Regions from separate parts of the Homo sapiens genome. Here region 2 is linked to region 1. Evidence: fine-mapped expression QTL. Tissue or cell type: prefrontal cortex. Region 1 holds a variant in brackets; the other region holds the start of a gene. All regions are shown on one strand. Distances are between the middles of the regions.

The links. PIP is the estimated chance that this variant, and not a neighbour inherited with it, causes the effect.
Region 2: VSTM2B-DT starts here. The variant in region 1 is fine-mapped to the expression of VSTM2B-DT in prefrontal cortex (GTEx, PIP above 0.99). The same link has a PIP of 0.9 or more in amygdala, anterior cingulate cortex, cerebral cortex and nucleus accumbens.

The regions. Positions count from the first base shown.
Region 1 is chr19:29,405,780-29,413,883 of GRCh38, reverse strand. It overlaps VSTM2B-DT (VSTM2B divergent transcript), which reads left to right. Exons shown (of 10, transcript NR_040029.2): 3 at 918-1,109. Among named protein-coding and RNA genes, the nearest start is that of VSTM2B-DT, 120 kb to the left of the region's middle. The variant C/T (reference allele first, on the strand shown) is at 3,945.
Region 2 is chr19:29,520,971-29,529,074 of GRCh38, reverse strand. VSTM2B-DT (VSTM2B divergent transcript) reads left to right here and starts at 3,325. Exons shown (of 10, transcript NR_040029.2): 1 at 3,325-3,651. VSTM2B (V-set and transmembrane domain containing 2B) reads right to left here and starts at 3,081. Exons shown (of 5, transcript NM_001146339.2): 1 at 2,410-3,081; 2 at 1,680-1,864; 3 at 613-642. The coding sequence starts at 2,491. It overlaps LOC124904683 (a long non-coding RNA gene), which reads left to right. Exons shown (of 2, transcript XR_007067215.1): 1 at 1-34.

The sequences.
Region 1 (8,104 bases):
TCTGCTGGGGCTGCCTTCCTGACTAGCTCCAGGGTTTCCAGCCTGTGCTGGGGGCAGCTGCTCAGGCTTTCTTTCACCTGTGTGGGCACGTGCAGGGGTGGGGATGCCCTCTCTGCAGTGCCAGCCCCACAGCTGAGGGCCAGAAGCTCCCTATGCAGAGATGGCCTCGGTCAGAGATGGCTGGCGTTTCTGCCTTTCATCAGGGAAACTAGTGGTGCAAGCAGAGGGACTCTCAGACAATCTGGTGACTTGGCCCTTAGTGGTGGAGCTGTTGCCATGGTCTATGGGGAGGGAGCCCTTTGCCTCTGAATCATAGTTTCTGAGTTTTGAACTGTAGTTCTGGGTTTGTGCTGAGACTCTCCCCAACCCCCATTCTCTCCAGAGCCAGAAATTGCTTTGGAGTGGGAGTGTGGTGAAAGAAGGTAGGTCAGTGTCAGTTGTCACAAAATCGCTGCATAAAAACCACTGAGACCTGGTGACATGCAATTGTAAACATGTGTTTTTTTTTCCCTGTGCAACAGTGGGTCATTTGTGGCTCTACGGATCTGAGCCAGGCCCGGCAGGGCTCACTCATGGGCCTGTGGTTGTCTGCGGGTTGGCAAGGTGGCTGTGGGATCTTCTTCCACCTAGGGCCCTTGGCTGGGCCCCTGGGGCCAGTGTGGCTCTGCTCCACGCATCTCCTCCTCCAGCAGGCCAACCTGGGCCTGTCCTCCTGGTGGAAGTAGAAGCGCCAAAGAGAGTGGCAGCTCAGCCTCGCATTGGCACACACACTCACTGCCACTGGGTTCTGTCAGCCACAGCAGGTCACCCTGCTAGGTTGGAGAAGTAGATGCCACCTCCTCAGGGAGTAGCTGCAAAATGTCCTTGGGGGCCTGGAGGCAGGGAGGGGTGGAGAACTGTGGCTATTTTTTTTGCAGTCAATTCACCGTACCATGTGGACTCCCCAGTGTGGAGCAGAATCTGAGGACTGACTTGCTAAGAATCTCTGGGCACCCTGGATAGAACCTTCCCTTTGGCTCTGAGCATGGTGGCTCACACCTGAGATCCCAGCACTTCGGAAGGCCGAGGTGGGAGAATTGCTTGAGGCCAGGAGTTCGAGACCAGCCTAGGTAACGTAACGAGACCTTGTCCCTACAAAAAATTAAAAGAAAATTACCCAAGTGTATTAGTCCATTTTCACACTGCTATGAAGAACTGCCTGAGACTGGGTAATTTATAAGAAAAGAGGTTTAACTGACTCACAGTTCCTCATGGCAGGAAAGGCCTCAGGAAATTTATGATCGTGGCGGAAGGGGAAGCAGGCACGTCTTACGTGGCGGTAGGTGAGAGAGGATGTGTAGGAAGTGAAAGGGTAAGAGCCCCTTATAAAACCATCAAATCTCATGAGAAATCACTCTCTATCATGAGGACAGCATGGGGGAACCACCCCCATGATCCAAACACGTCCCACCAGGTCTTTCCCTCAACACCTGGGGATTACAATTTAAGATGAGATTTGGTGGGGACACAAAGTCTGACCCATATCACCAGGTGTGTTGGTGCACGGATGTGGGAGGATCTTGAGCCCAGGAGGTTGAGGCTTCAGTGAGCCATGAATGCACCCCGGCACTCTAGCCTGGGTGACAGAGGGAGCCCCTGTCTCAAAAACAAAAAGAGAAAGAACCCTCCTTCTAAGTTATCTTCATTCTTCCTACGTTCCCACTGAACCTGCCCACAGACCCTTTCTTGGCACAGCCCTTGCAGCCTGGCCTACCGTCGGCTTCTCCTGAACAGCATGCCTGTGCAGCTCTTGCCCAGAGCCCAGAAACCTTCTGGAAAGGGGAAGCTGGGAGGAGTCCGTCTCTATTTCCTCTCTCTCTCTCCCCAGCCCCTCTCCTGTGGGACCGACCAGTGGAGCTTTCAGGGTGCTCCATCTTCCTCTCTGGGCTACTCCGGGCTTTATCTGGCAAGTGAGGCCCCACTCATGGGGCTGTCGCCCTGGCTAGGTACAGATAGGTCCTATGCATGGATGACTTCAGGCAATTCTCACAACAACCCTGCCAGGTCATCTGCATTATCCCCGGGGTCACATGAAGAAGTAGGTTAAGTAAGGGGCCAGGTCCCCCAGCTCCTCAGTGGCAGAGACAGGGCTGAAACTCAGCTGGGAATGACCATTGAGTATGGTGGTTTCTTACCCCCATCCCACAGATTGGAAGACCGAGACCCTCCTAGTCAAGTGACAGATTCCCCTTCTCCAGCTCCGCAGTGGCCTGGCAGATAAATGCTAGGTTGTTTTTTTTTAATTTTTTTTTTCCCCTTCAAGTTTCCATCTGTTCACGCAGTCACCGAATTTATGCATGTTCAGGCACCATCTGCGACTGCAACCCCATTTCCAAATCCGAAAGCATTTTTCCTTTTTGTACTTAACATGCACAGCGGCGCGGCGGTCCAGAATAAATAACTCTTCTTGGATTGCCAAAGTTCCAGGGGCCTCCACGGGAAATTTTCTCTGAGGAGTGGGGGAGGAGGGAAGGATTTTGCTAAACTGGAATTTTGTTTTTCTGACGTGGGCTATTTCTTCTGGCTGACATTTTAGCGGGCTTCCATCTGCTGGCTGCATTTCATGACCCCTCTTTGTTGTCTCCTTTGATAACAGAAAATGTGCACCACCGCTGAGCTGCTGTGTATGCGTATGTGTATGTGTATGTGTGTGTGTGCGTGAGAGTGCATGTGTGTGCGTGTGTGCGCATGTGTGTGAGTGCGTGTGTGTGTGTGTGTATGAGTTGGCATGTATGAGTTGGTGCATGCCTCTGAGCCCACACCTCATGTCTTTGAAAGCCCTTCTGATTGCCCCTCACCTTGAGACCATCGTGGTCACAGTCACACAATTTGGGACTTGGGGAGCGATGACCTGGCTGGAAAGCTGGAAGATGTGGTGACTGCACAGGTCCTGCAACTTCCAGAGCTTCTCCAGAGCTCCCAGAGGCCAGAAAATCAGTTTTATTTTAGATTCTGAGAATGAAATTTAGAAACCCTTCTCTCTCCAACCTTTTCCTGGAATACTTAGTAGTTTTCTGACTGTACCATGGCTAGGTTAATTTTCCTTATTTTATTTTTTATTTTTTGCTCTTGTCATTTCCTGTTTCCAAACCTTCCACAGATGTTATCCATCATCATCAGTGTGGCTGGCTCCCTCCAGGCTGTCTTTCTGTCTGGACCATTTCTGTCCCCTCCTGCCCTGGGAGGGTCTCTCTCGATGCCTTTGCCTGTACCACACTTCTGTGTGGTGTGTCCTCTGCCCTCCCCATCTTTCCACACTCTAACTGTCCTGTCCCTGTCCCAGAGGGTGTCCCTGCCTGCTCTGTGTCCCTGAGAGCCAATGCTGCAGCATCCTCCCAGAGCCAGTCCCAGGTGACACAGAGCCCCTTCCTGTGTCTTCCTCATGTGTGTCTCCTTCGGTGCTCCACCGCCTGGGTGGCCCACGTTTGGTGGATTTCACATGGAATCTGGAGATAGAGTCTGATGTGCATGTGGTTTGGGGAGCTGGCTTCTCTCAGCAGGTGGGAGATTTACACACAGGAGCAGGAGGATCCTTTGAGCCCAGGAGGTTGAGGCTGCAGTGAGCTGTGACTGTGCCACTGCACTCCAGTCTGGGTGACAGGGCAAGACTCTGTCTCTAAAACAAAACAATCTGACATCCTGGTCCTTAAGGTGATGGTTTTAGGAGGTGGAGAATTGGGGGGTGATTAGGCCACTGGGGAGGAGCCCTCATGAATGGGATTGACGGATTAATGCCATTTTTGAAGAGGCCTGAGAGATTCCTTGCTGTTTTGTTAGAGTGAGAAGATGGCCATCTGTGAGGAAGTGGGGGGCCCTCATGCAATACCAAATCTGCTGGGGCCTTGATATTAGACTTCCCAGCCTCCAGGTGTGAGCAATAAACTTCTGTTGTTTACAAGTCTCTC[C/T]TAGTCTCTGGTATTTTTGTTATGGCAGCCGAAATGGATGAAGACAACACCTGAATGCGCCCGTTCCTAGGCCCTTCTCCAAGTCTTGGCTTGGTGTTTGCAGCTCCCCCTGCATCAAGCAGCAGAATGCAGCTTCTAAGAGTACCAGCTTTGACAGCAGAGAGACCTGGGTTTGAAGAATTCTAGCTCTGTGACTGGACATGGCCTGTGCTTTCTGTCTGGACTATTTCTCTCCCATCCGCCCTTGGAAGCAAACTCCTATTCATCCTTCAAGACCCAGATGTCAGATGCCTCTTCTAGGAAGCCTACCAGGCCCTCCATGGGCCACATGTACAGGCTAAGCCATCTACCTCTGGGCTGGCTTCTCTTCCCTGTGTGCTCCCCAGGTCAGAGACCGTGTGGCTCTTGGGGGCCCACAGAGCTGGCAGCAGTGAACATTGGATGGATGGACTGTCATTTTGTAGCAACAGGAGCCTCCCGACTCCCATCCATGCCCCTACAATGGATTAGTCTGTAGGGCCCAGCCCTTTCTGTGGGCGCTCAGCACAGCATGGTCACCCGCTAGCCCTGGCCGGGCAGCCCCTCCTGCGGCAGGGAGTCCGAAAGCGTCCGGATGCTTTAACTGCCACCGGCCAGGCCCTGCAGGAGCCCAGCTCAGGGAGGAAGGACAAGGCATGCCTTTTCTCCTAAATGGGAGCTAACGAGTGTGGTCCCCCAGCTGCTCACTGTTGTCAGAGCTGTGCCCTGTCAGCTGGAGGCTCAACATGTGGCTGTCTGTGGTGGGGCTTCTGGGGGGACGGGGTGGCCTGCAGAATGCCCATGCAGCCTCCACTCCTGGCAGAAGGCCTGTGCGCTAGGCCCCCAGCTGATACATCGGGAGGGAAAGAGCACCTGTGCTCTCCCCACCTGTGCTTCTCCTTCCCTGTGGGCAGGCGGGATCTAGCCCTGCCCTTGCTGGAGGTCCTTCCTGGGAACCTCTACACAGCCAGGCTCTGCAGTGTCGGCTCAGGCGTGCACTGAGGGTGGCCCCTCCACAGCATCCTCAGGACCTCAGGCATGTGACGGTGCTTGGGGGACATCTCTTGGCTACAGGTCTGCCCTTTCTGGACCATGGCACTGGATGTAGCTCCAGGGACTCCACTCCTTGCAGAACAAAGGGAGGGGAATTATCCTCATTCAGCTCCAGCCCAGGGAGATGCCTTCACATCTCCCCTCTAGGAGTGCCTGAGCTCCCTAGAGCCTATGACACAGGGGACATCCTGGCCCTGCCCCTTACTGAATGTGTCGCCTTCACTCTCTGAGTCTCCGTTGTCTCATTCACAAAGTCAGCATGATAATAATCATACCTGCCTGGGTTCTTGTGAACAACAACAAAAACCAAACAAAACCATTATGCAGAATGGAAAAGCTTTGTCAGCATACAGCACTGTCCTTGTAGAGGCGAGTGGCCGGGCACCCACAGCATGGAGCACCAGGGATGTGCCAGCTACCACACGCAGGCAGAGACAGACTTCCTCCTGCTTCTGCTTGCGGGATTTGATATTGTGGTGAGGGAGGGGACAGATGCTCCATAAGTGAGCCCAGGCACATGTCATCCAGCCCGTCTATGTGCACATCGGGCCTCTAGGGGCCAGAAAGTGGCTGGGTATTTCACCCCCATCCCCAGGAAAGATGAGGCCCAGCGGGGCAAGATGCAGGGAGTGGGCTCTTTCTGGCAGTCACAGGAGTGGGTTCTGATTCCAGGCAGGCTTGCTGTATCTTCTTGGCAGATGCCGTCTGGATCCTTAGGAGCTGCAGGGTGGATGGCAACAAGGTCTGGACGTCACTGGGCAGTGAAGCGGGGGCCTGGTTGGCCAAGCCATTGCCTGATGGGGATACCAAAGAGGGGTCTAGACAGGGAACTGCAGGTCCTCCCCATTCTGCCATCCTCTTATGGTCCAGGGGTATGAAGCCTTCCAGCCACACAATCTCGAGGACAGAACTCGAGCATGTTGGCCCTAAAAGCCCCTCTTTCCACCACCCCACTGCAAAGATTAGGTCCAACTCTCTGAAGGTTATTGAGGCGGAGAGGCAAGTGCCAAGGGCTCTGGATTTTGCATCTGGGAGACCTTAGGCTGGTACCTTCTTCTCACTGGGCCTCAGTTTCCCCCTGAGTCAGATGAGAGGGTTGGACCAGATGGTAACAGGCTTTTCATCTGTGGCTTGCTTGTGACCATCAAAAAAAGCAAAAACACGTTAAAGCCTCGCCAGTCATCATTTTCCAAGTTTCCCCTGGATTTTTCCATCGGAAGACAAAACGTGATGAGACCATATGTCAGGCTAATTGTTCCCCAAACAGAATTTAAACATTTGAATATGCTTGCAACAGGGAAGGGCAGGAAAGAAAATGGTGTTGCAGGGGGTGGAGGTAGTAGAGTCTGGCTCTGTCCCTGGGATGTGCTACAGGGGTACCCTTGCCTTCAGGGCCATGGGGCTGCCTGGGGCAGCAAGAGGTCTGTCAAACTGTATGAAAGGTCAAGGCTGGTGGGCCATGGTTATAAAGTCCACCCACCCACTCACTCTACAGGTAACAGCAGAGCACTCAGCTGAAGCCTGGCCCAGCCCTGGGTGCTGGGAACCTGAGGATCAGGGAGGGAGACAGCTGAGGTCCTTGCTGCTTTGGAGCTCCCAGGTCAGCAGGAGAGACAAGTGCCAGGATGGAAGGGGCCACACAGGGGCTGGGGGTGCCAGTTGAGGATTAGGGGAGGCCTAAGGGATCGGGGGAGCCAGGTAACAAGGAGGAAGGGGCAAGCATTTCTGGAAGAGAAGGCAGAGAGTGTGAGGGCCAGGGTGGGAGCAGTGTGGCCACTGGTCCTGTAGAAGGCTTGTCGCATCAGAACCAGAGGGGTGCTGGGGAGAGGGGCACAGGGTTGGGGGGCCGGAGGGGTGGCTGGGGGTCCCATCACCTGTGGCGGGTGGGCTGCCTTGTCTGGGCCCTGCAAGTGATGAGGAGGGGCTGACAGCCTGCAGCAGGGGGGTGACAGGACACCTCTGGGCTTCTGTCCCAGCTCTGTGCCTTCCCCTGATGTGTGGTCAGGTACACGGAGGAGGTGCACCCCAGGGAGGGCCGTGAGTGGAGTTATTCCTCACATCCTTTTTTTTTGCATTTATTATTATTTTTAGTTGACCATAATAATTCTACACATTCATTAGGTACAGTGATATTTTAATACATGTAGAAATGTGTAATAATCAAATCAGGGTAATTAGCATATCCATCACCTCAAACATTTATTATTTCTTTGGGTTGGGAACATTCAAAATTCGTTCTTGCAGCTATTTGAAAATATACAATACATTGTGTTAATGATAGTCATCTTACAGTGTTATAGAACACTAGAACTTATTCCTCCTGTCTAGATGTAGTTCTATAGCCATTAAGCCATCTCTGGCTGTCCTCCCACCCTTCCCTGCTTCTGGTCATCACTATTCTACCCTGTTCTTTTTTTTTTTTCATTAGAGACAAGGTCTTTCTTGGTCACCCAGGTTGGAGTGCAGTGGTGTGATCATGGCTCATTGCAGCCTCCAACTCCCGGGCTCCAGCGATCGTCCCGCCTTGGCCTCCCCAGTAGCTGTGACTACAGGCATGCATCCCACCACTACCAGCAAATTAAAAAAAAAAACAAAACTTTTTGTAGAGACGGGGTCCCACTATGCTGCCCAGGCTGGTCTCGAAATCCTGGGCTCAAGGGACCTCCTACCTCGACCTCGCAAAGTGCTGCGGTTACAGGTATGAGCCACAGCACCCAACTCGCTACTTCTATGCGATCGACTTTTTCAGCTCCCACATGAGTGAGATCATGAGCTATTTGTCTTTCTGTTCCTGGCTTTTTTCACTTAGCATAACATTCTCTAAACATCCTTGCTGCCGAGAATGACCATGAAGAGGTGAGCGGATAGATAAAACGTGGTATTAATATACACACACAGTGGAACACTGTTCATCCACATCCTCTTGTTGCAGGCTCAGGGAGGTGAGCGGGTGGGGAATTGATGCCGGGACCCGGGGAGGCAGCAGCGGACGTGGGCTCAGAACCCACGCCTGTGGTCTCCTGGCTCCCCGTGGCCCCCTCTTCAGAGCACTGGGCTGCGACCTGCACCCTCTGGTGTGGCGCGGCTGC
Region 2 (8,104 bases), 120 kb before region 1:
GGCTTCGTCATCTCCAGGCCTTTCTACGCTCCAGGTGGGAAGCTTGGGCGCATCTCCTCCCAGAGTTAGCAACCCCATGACCCGGGCCCCTCGCAGCCTGGCACAACCACCCCCTACCCCGTCCCCTGCAAGCCTGCAACACCCCGCACCCAGACCCGCAATCCAGGCGGAGGATAAAGGGTTGCAGCGGAGGGCGCAGAGCAGATGCTCAGGGCGGGGCAGAGGGGGCGGGAAGCTGGCGCCACGGTCGCGGCGAGGGCGAGCAGCCGCGCGCTCCCGGTGCTAGGAGGAATGCCCGCAGAGCGGAGGCTGGCAGGCGCGAGAGGCCCTAAGCGCGCAGTCCGACCAAGGGGAGTTTTACAGGTCAGCGCCGAGCCGAATTAGGGGACTCAAGCCTTGGACCCTTGATTTACACAAAAGAGAACCCGACCCTGCAACCGGCGACAGATGGCGCCCGGACACGCCGAGCAGCCACCGATGCAAGGCTGCGATCGCTGCCCTACTTGCGCGGCCCCACATGCGCGGCCGCCGCGGCTTGCTAAGGGAGGGAGCTGCGGGACCCGAGGCGGCCAGAAGGGGTCTCCCGCGGCCCGCGCTGGGCTCCACACTTACGCTGATTTTAGTTGCATCCTTATTTGTTACCTAAAATGCAAAGAGGGAGAGAGAGACGTGAGGCTCGCGGCCTTCTGGCTAGGGGAACTCGGATCCGCCTTTAGGCAAGGGCACCCTCCTCCGGCAGGCTAGGACCGAAACCGCCCGGGGGATGGGGGTTGAGGGCACAAAGGACGTCCGGCTTTCCAAGAGTTTCCCAGGAGGAAGCGGGCTTTGGAGCTAGCATGGTGCCTGACCAACGGGTGGCTGCCCTGGTGCACACCTGCCGGCTGAACTGGGGAGACTGGATGGACACCAGGGTGGGAAGGAAAGCCCCTCTCCTTCCCTCTGGGCATCCTTAGGCCCTGCCGCGTGGCTCAAAATCCTCCCCCAGCTCACTGGGAGCCGTGAAGAACTGGAGGGAGGGCCGCTGTGTCTGGACAGCACCCAGCGGGAGGCTCAGTGGGAGTAACTCTGGGTGGGACCCTGGGAGAATGTAGGTGTGTGTAGGTGTAGGTGTGTGTGTAGGTGTGTGTGCACGCGAGCACACTAGAGTGTGTAAGAGAGTGTGGGTTTTGAGGCAGACAGGCAGCGTGGGCCTGTTTTCGGCCACAGAGAAGTGGCCCCTCTGTGCCCCTGAGGGCTGGAGGTCCTGCCGGCTTTCCGGTACTCGGTTTTCTGGTGGCCTCTGGAACGCAGCCGTGGGAGCCCTGGGGTCCTCAAAGTGGCAGAGGGCGGGGAGAGCCTGATGGGACCAAGGGGGCTTCCTTCACTACCCAGCACCCATCAGAGGGCCGCAGCCAGCGAGCACGAGCAAGCGACCAGGCTGAGGTGTGGCTCTTTAGGGGCTGGGCGTGAATGGAGTTCTGGGAGGTGGTGGGAACAGCGATGCTGTCAAAATAATTGACAGGTTTGGGGGTAACCACTGCTGACTTTGAAGATGCTTTGGGATGCGAAGGTGGAAGATGGGCTGCGCCACAGGGCGGCGCCCTGCGCGAGTGAAGCCCGCTGCTTCCCTCCCTGGGTTAGCCTTCGCCGCCCCGGGCGCGAGCCGGGCGCGCGCCGGTACCGCGTGGGCGGCGGGTTACCTTGCTCCGGGCGCCCGGCACGCTGAGCGCCAGCTCGTGCAGCAGCTCCCGGGGTGGCTCCTTGAGGTACCACCACTGAATCTCCAGCGAATACGAGGTGGCTCCGCTGGCCCGGAACGCGCAGGGCATTTCGATGTCGTCTCCCTCCCGTACTGTCACATCTTTGGGGACTTCTGTGAATGCAGCTGGGGGTGGGGAGAGAGAGAGAGGCGTGACCAGCTGTAGGTCGGGGGCCTGGGGCAACCTAAAGCGAGGCAGTCGGTCTCTGGCTGGCTGGCCTTGTGCCCCCCACCCCGCAGCTGCTCCCTGGCGCACGGCCGGAGGGGCTAGCAAAGTTCGGGGAAGCGGCTGCAGGGCCGAGGCAGGGACCGGCCATCGGCTGCCTACTGCTTCCCTCCGGATGGGGCGGGGCGGCAGGGGCGACTCGTGCTTCTCCCCCGCCCCTGGCCGCACCGCCAGAGCCTGGCTGGGGCGCGCCTACTCCCGCTCCCCGCAGGCATCCTTTCCGCAGCCGGGGCCCCGGCGGGACTGGGAACGACTCGGGCGCGGCGCTGCTGCTGCGGCGACCCTTCGCCGCTCGCCTCTCCCTACCCCTCCGGGCCCAGGCTGCACAGCGGGATTGCTGGAGACCGCGAAGCTTCCCGGTTCGTTCTCTTTCTTCTTCTTCTCGGTGGCGGCCCCAGCAAAGACCCCCCCGAGTCCACAGCGGCAGCAAAGTTCCCGCGCTCACCGTCGGCCACGAAGAGCAGCAGGGCATGCAGCAGCAGAGGCGGCAGGTATCCGAGGGCACCGAGCCGGTTCCGCTGTTCCATCTCCCGCGGGGGGCGCGGTGGCGGCGGGGGCCCGGGAGCGGAGAGGCGGCGGCCGCGTGGGCTCGGATCGGCTCCGGCTCGGGCTAGGACGCCTCCGAGCCTGCCATGGCCCCGCGCGGCGCCCCCTCCCCTGGCCGCCGGCGGCCGCCAATCAGCCCCGCTCCCTCGCCGGCTTGCCCGGTGCGGCTCCGGCGGGGGGCGCTGCGCGGGGTGTGCAGGAGACGCGGTCCCACCGGGAGGCTGCTGGCGATCGGTCAGTGCCTCTCTCTGTCCGGTCGTCCACAGGACGGTGGGGATCCGCGGTTCAGTCTCTGCCCGGCGGGCCGGGCAGGGGCTGGGCCGCGCCGGGACCCATCCCTGGCCGAGGGAGTGCGTGCCACGGAGCCGCGAGCTTCTGCCTCCCTGTCTCCTTCTGGTTCTGCTCCCGATTGCCACCTCCTTCGGCTCCCGCAGCCGCCCCCGCCGGTTCCTCCGCGGCTCTTTCCGCAGGGCGAGTGGGCGCTCAGCCGCGGCGCGCAGACCTGGCGTCCGACCCAGCGCAGCGCGGGGAGAGCGGGTCCGGCGTGGCGGACCCGGAGCCGGAGAGAGGCGGGGAGAGGGGGAGGGGAGGGGAAGGGAGGGGGCGGTCAGTGGCTGGGCGCCAAGCCGCCTCCACCGCTGCATCGCCCCCGCCCTCCCCTCTCCTGCCACAGCCCGCCCCGCCCCCGCCCCAGAGCGCTCCCCCTCTCTCCTCGGGGGTCGCTCGGAGGGACCACCGTCTTTCTGGTTGGAGTACAGCCCCGCCCCGCACCCGCTTGGGTTGGGAGTCCTCCCACCCAAACTCTCCCTGGCTTCTTCCCAGTCTGCACGGCTCGAGACGGCCGCTCATCCCTGCTCCCCGTGTGTCCCTCGGTCCTCTCTGCAGCTCCCAGCCCTCAACTCCTTACCCCAGTTTGGGCAACCAGCTGCCCCGCTGTTTGGCCCAGGCCTGGGCCATGACGGATGGGTGGGCGCCCGGGGCCGCGAGAAGGGCGGAACGCTGTGCCCAGCCGGAGACTACGCTGGGTGGCGGCGGCAGCGCCGGGAGTCTGCAGTGCGCGAGGGAGAAGTGAGCGCACAGCGCCCAGCGAGCAGGTGCCTGCGGCGCGGAGAGCGCACACGCTAGCCAGCCCGCAGCGGCCGTGAGTGACGGCAGGGGCGGCGGGGGTGGGGTGGGGTGGGGAGCGCCGGGCACGACTCAGGGCCCGGGAGGTTTCCGGGAGGGGGCGGGGTTCCTGCCCCTGGATCGCGGGTCCCTGTGTCTCCACGCGCTCTTCGCCGGTCGTGGCCCCTTCTTTGCCCGGTGCAAAGCGAGATGCCGAGGCGGCAGGAAGCCGGAACCCATCCCCCGCCTGCTCTGGCGTACTCGGCATCCCGGTACCTCCCCCAGCCTTCACCCGGAGTCTGCTCCCTCCCCAGCCATCTGAGGGAGCGCGGTCTGGTCCCCGAAGGCAAATGCGGGGTGGACATGTGGTTCGGACGCAGCGCGTAGTCATAGTCATAGGGGCGAGTCCTAAGGCTCGCCTTGGGTCTCTCCTATCTCCTTCCCCCGGGAGTCCCCAGCTAGTGCGTTTCGGCACCTCTGCCCCTACCCCGGCCCCTACGCCTCAGCTCTGACCTCAGGTTGGGGTGGGGCAGCCCGGTGGATTCACGTGCCTGCTTCCCCGGCTACCAGCCTCCCGGAGGCACCGCCAGAGGATTCCCTGGGAGCCAAGGAGAAGGAAACCCAGAGGGAAAACACTCTCCAGCAGCCACCCTGGTCCAGGCGGCCAGCGCAGCACAGCTCAGAGGGGAGGAGCTGCAGGCCCTCTCCAAGGCTGTCCTCGCCAGCGGGTGCCCGGGGCCAGCCCTTCTTGCCTCCAGTGCCTGCCTTTCAGTTTCCTCGTCTATGGCCCAGGAGTCACTCCCACCCCCTGGCTCACTGTGGCTCATCTATCAAGCCCTTGTTTTCTAAGGTCTCCTGCTGGGGGCAAAGGGAAGAAGGGGGTCCTATAGGACTTTCCTCCTTTCCCTCAAGTTCCTCTCTAGGGGCTCCACAGAGGCAGTTGCCAGCTCCTTCTGTCATGGCAGGAGCTTTTCCTAGGAAATCCCATGTGCCCTTAGAAACCACTTTGGACCCCCGAATGTAAGACCCTGCCAGGCCCCATTGCTGTCCTCAGCTTCTGAAGGGAGAGGGCAGACTTGCACCGCTCTATGCAGATTCAGGACCACAGCGGGGTTCCAGGAAAGCAGGCTCATTTGGGGACTGATTCCAAGCAGGGTTCTGAAGAAAGAGCTAGCCCACTGCGCAGTGGCCCACCTGGAGAGGTAGCAGTCTCCTTTCCTGATGCCAGATCCAAGCAGAGGCTAATGCTGGAGACCAGCGATGCCCGTGGGAGAATCCCTGTAGCTAGAGGGAATTATCTGGAAGTAATTTATCCCTGTACCGCCTTGTGGGGTTGGGTGTTTCTTGCCCACTGCATGAGTTGGTATTACTCTAAGAGCGACAGATACATGTTTTCACATGCTTTCCATGTACTAGACACTTTCTAGGCATCAGTTCTCAACATGACAAAGAGATCCTTCTCAGGGAAATCAGATCCCTCTTCCACTGCTGAAAAACCCCACAGTGGCTCCCATTTCACTTGGCATAAACACCAGTGGCCTTGCAGTGGCTGCCAAGGTCAAACCATCTGCCTTTCTGCTTCCTGCTCACCCTTTTCCTTCATCTTCTCATCTTTTCTGTCTTCTCCATAGCTCACACTCCCCTAGCCACACTGTTCTCCTTCCTACAATGCAGCACACTGGGCATGCTTCTACCCCAGGGCCCTTGCACCAGCCGCACCATCTGGTTGACATGCTTCTCCCACAGATACTTGCTTGGCTAACTCCGTTGTGCTCTGGTTTTTGTCAAGCAGTCACCTTCTCCATGAGGCCCACCTGGGCCACCATATTTAACACTGCAGTCTACACTGCCTCTCCTCCCACCACCCAGCACTCCCAGGCCCTCACTCTGCTTCCTTTATTTTTTCCATTTCGCCAGCCATCTTCCAACACATGGGACCACATCCTTATTTATTGAGTGTCTTGTTGCAGGTCTCTAAGACTGTGCCTGCCTTGTTCACTGATGTATCTCTAGCGCCTACAACAGGGTCGGGCACAGAGTAGGAGCTCAGTAAATACTTGTGGAATGAATGAATGAGCTCATTTTACCTCAATCACAACTCCAGGGGTAGACATGGTGATTTCACTCCATTTTATGGTTGAAGCTCAGAAGCTTACGGAACTTGCCCAAGGTCACATAGTTAGTAAGTGGCTGAGTGACGCATCAACCCAAAGCCTGTCTTACTCTGGGGTCCTGGATCTTAACCAAAACACTAAGCTCTTCCCTCCTCCAGGTGAGCCCCTGGTCCTGATGCCTCGAGTTGGTGTGGAGAGCAAGGCCCTACCCTTGACTGATGGGAGCAAGGAGCAGCCTGAGCTAGACTTGTAGTCTCTTTCCTGTCTGTTCAGCTTGGTCTATCTGTTTTCTGCCCTGCCTTGTAGACTGTGATGAGAGCAGCTGACCCACCTTCACTATGGTTTTTTTTTTTTTTTTTTTTGACACGGTCTTTTTCTGTTGTCCAGGCTGGAGTGCAGTGGCACGATCTTAGCTCACTGCACCTCAACGTCCTGAGCTCAAGCACCTCAGCCTCCAGAGTTATCATGCTGACACCAGGAGGATTAGCCCACCATGCCTTGCTAATATATATATATTTTTTTTGTAGAGATGGGGTGTTGCTATGTTGCCTAGGCTGGTCTTGAACCCCTGGGCTCAAGCGATCCTTCTGCCTCAGCCTTCCAAGTAGCTAGGACTACAGGCATGCACCATCACACTTGGCTAATTTTGTGCTTAAAATTTTTGTAGAGGTGAGTTCTTGCTCTGTTGCCCAGGTTGGTCTTGAACCCCTGGGCTCAAGCCATCTTCGTGTCTCAGCCTTCTAAGTAGCTGAGACTACAGGCATGCGCCACCATACCCAGCTAATTTTTAAAATGTTTTTTGTAGAGATGGGGTCTTGCTGTTGCCCAGGCTGGTCTTGAATGCCTGGGCTCAAGCGATCCTTCTGCCTCAGCCTTCCAAGTAGCTAGGACTGCAGCCATGCACCACTATACCTGGCTAATTTTGTTTAAAATTTTTTGTAGAGGTGAGGTCTTGCTGTGTTGCCCAGGTTGGTCTTGAACCCCTGGGCTCAAGCCATCTTCCTGTCTCAGCCTTCTAAGTAGCTAGGACTACAGGCATGCGCCACCATACCCAGCTAATGTTTTATTTTTAATATTTTTTGTAGAGATGGGGTCTTGCTGTGTTGTGCAGGCTGGTCTCAAACTCCTGGCCTCAAACAGTCCTCCTGCCTCTGCCTCCCAAAGCACTGGGATTATAGGAGTGAGCCACCACACTGGCTTTCTCTGTGTCTTTAACTCCCAGCTGGGCCTGCCCATAGTTAGAGCCTAGCAAATATTCGGACAGGGAACCCTGCTAGGAGCACTTTGCCTCCCTTTTGCTGTGGGTTTTCTGTGAGCAGGGCAGGGATTTTGTCTCTTCGACTTAGCCCTTTGGCTAGTTGGAGGATTAGTGAGCTAAGACCAGACTGCAGCTCCTGCCAGTCAGAGGGCACTGGGTTCCTTCCCTGCCAGTCTCTGCCAAGCCTGGCTCCCCACTCCCTGCAGGGGAGCCATTTCCTTCTCACTAAGTCCTGGTGGGATGTGGTCTCTCAGTTGGAGACTCTAAAGAAGGTGGCTGGGGAGGAGCATGCGTGTCACTTCTCCCAAAGGGACACTAAGCTCTGCGGACACAGCCATTCAGGTCTACCTACTGTGGTATCTCTTGGGCTCCTACAAAGATGACCTGTTTGCAGTGAATCGTGGTTATGTGAAGCTATGGACTTGAGAGTATTTCATGATCATTTTGTTTCTAGTCCTGATTAATCATCAATGGGAACTAACACGGTTTTCCCCTCCCTCCATCCACAGCTATAAAATGCCTGTGGGGTCGCTGTGCACAGAGACCTGGAGGCAGATCCTCTTGTAATGTGGTTGATGGGGCCATGGGTTGGCTGCCCTGCCCAGTTGGCTGTGCCCGGGGGGCTTGCTTCTGCCAGGGCCTGGCTACTGTGTGCCCAGCCTCGGGGCTCTCACTCATTACCTATCATGAGCTGTTATTATAGGGCTGTGAGCTGGGGTGCTTGTCAATACCATTTTGTGGATGGATTCACTGGACTCTCAGAGGCACTTTAAAAAGCGCTATTTAAAAAGACTGCCCAGCCTCTTGTGAAAGCACCCTTAAATTACAGCCCTAAGTGAGTGTTTTTCCTGGAACTCACTTTCAAAATTTATTTATTTTAATGCTCAGGTCCTCTTGGAGTTGGGTTTCAGTATTCTTGTCTCGGATGACCTTTCTTGTCCTCCCTGTACCATGTACGGCAACATTGATTTTGGGTAATGTATTTTGATTTTAAGATGCAGCCCATCCATAAAGTTTTCTATCAATAATCCCAGCACACTCTGTGTACCCGACAGCTTATAGGAAAATAGGAGATTTATGGGGGCTTTTATTTTTGGCCAGTTTAGTCATTCACACGC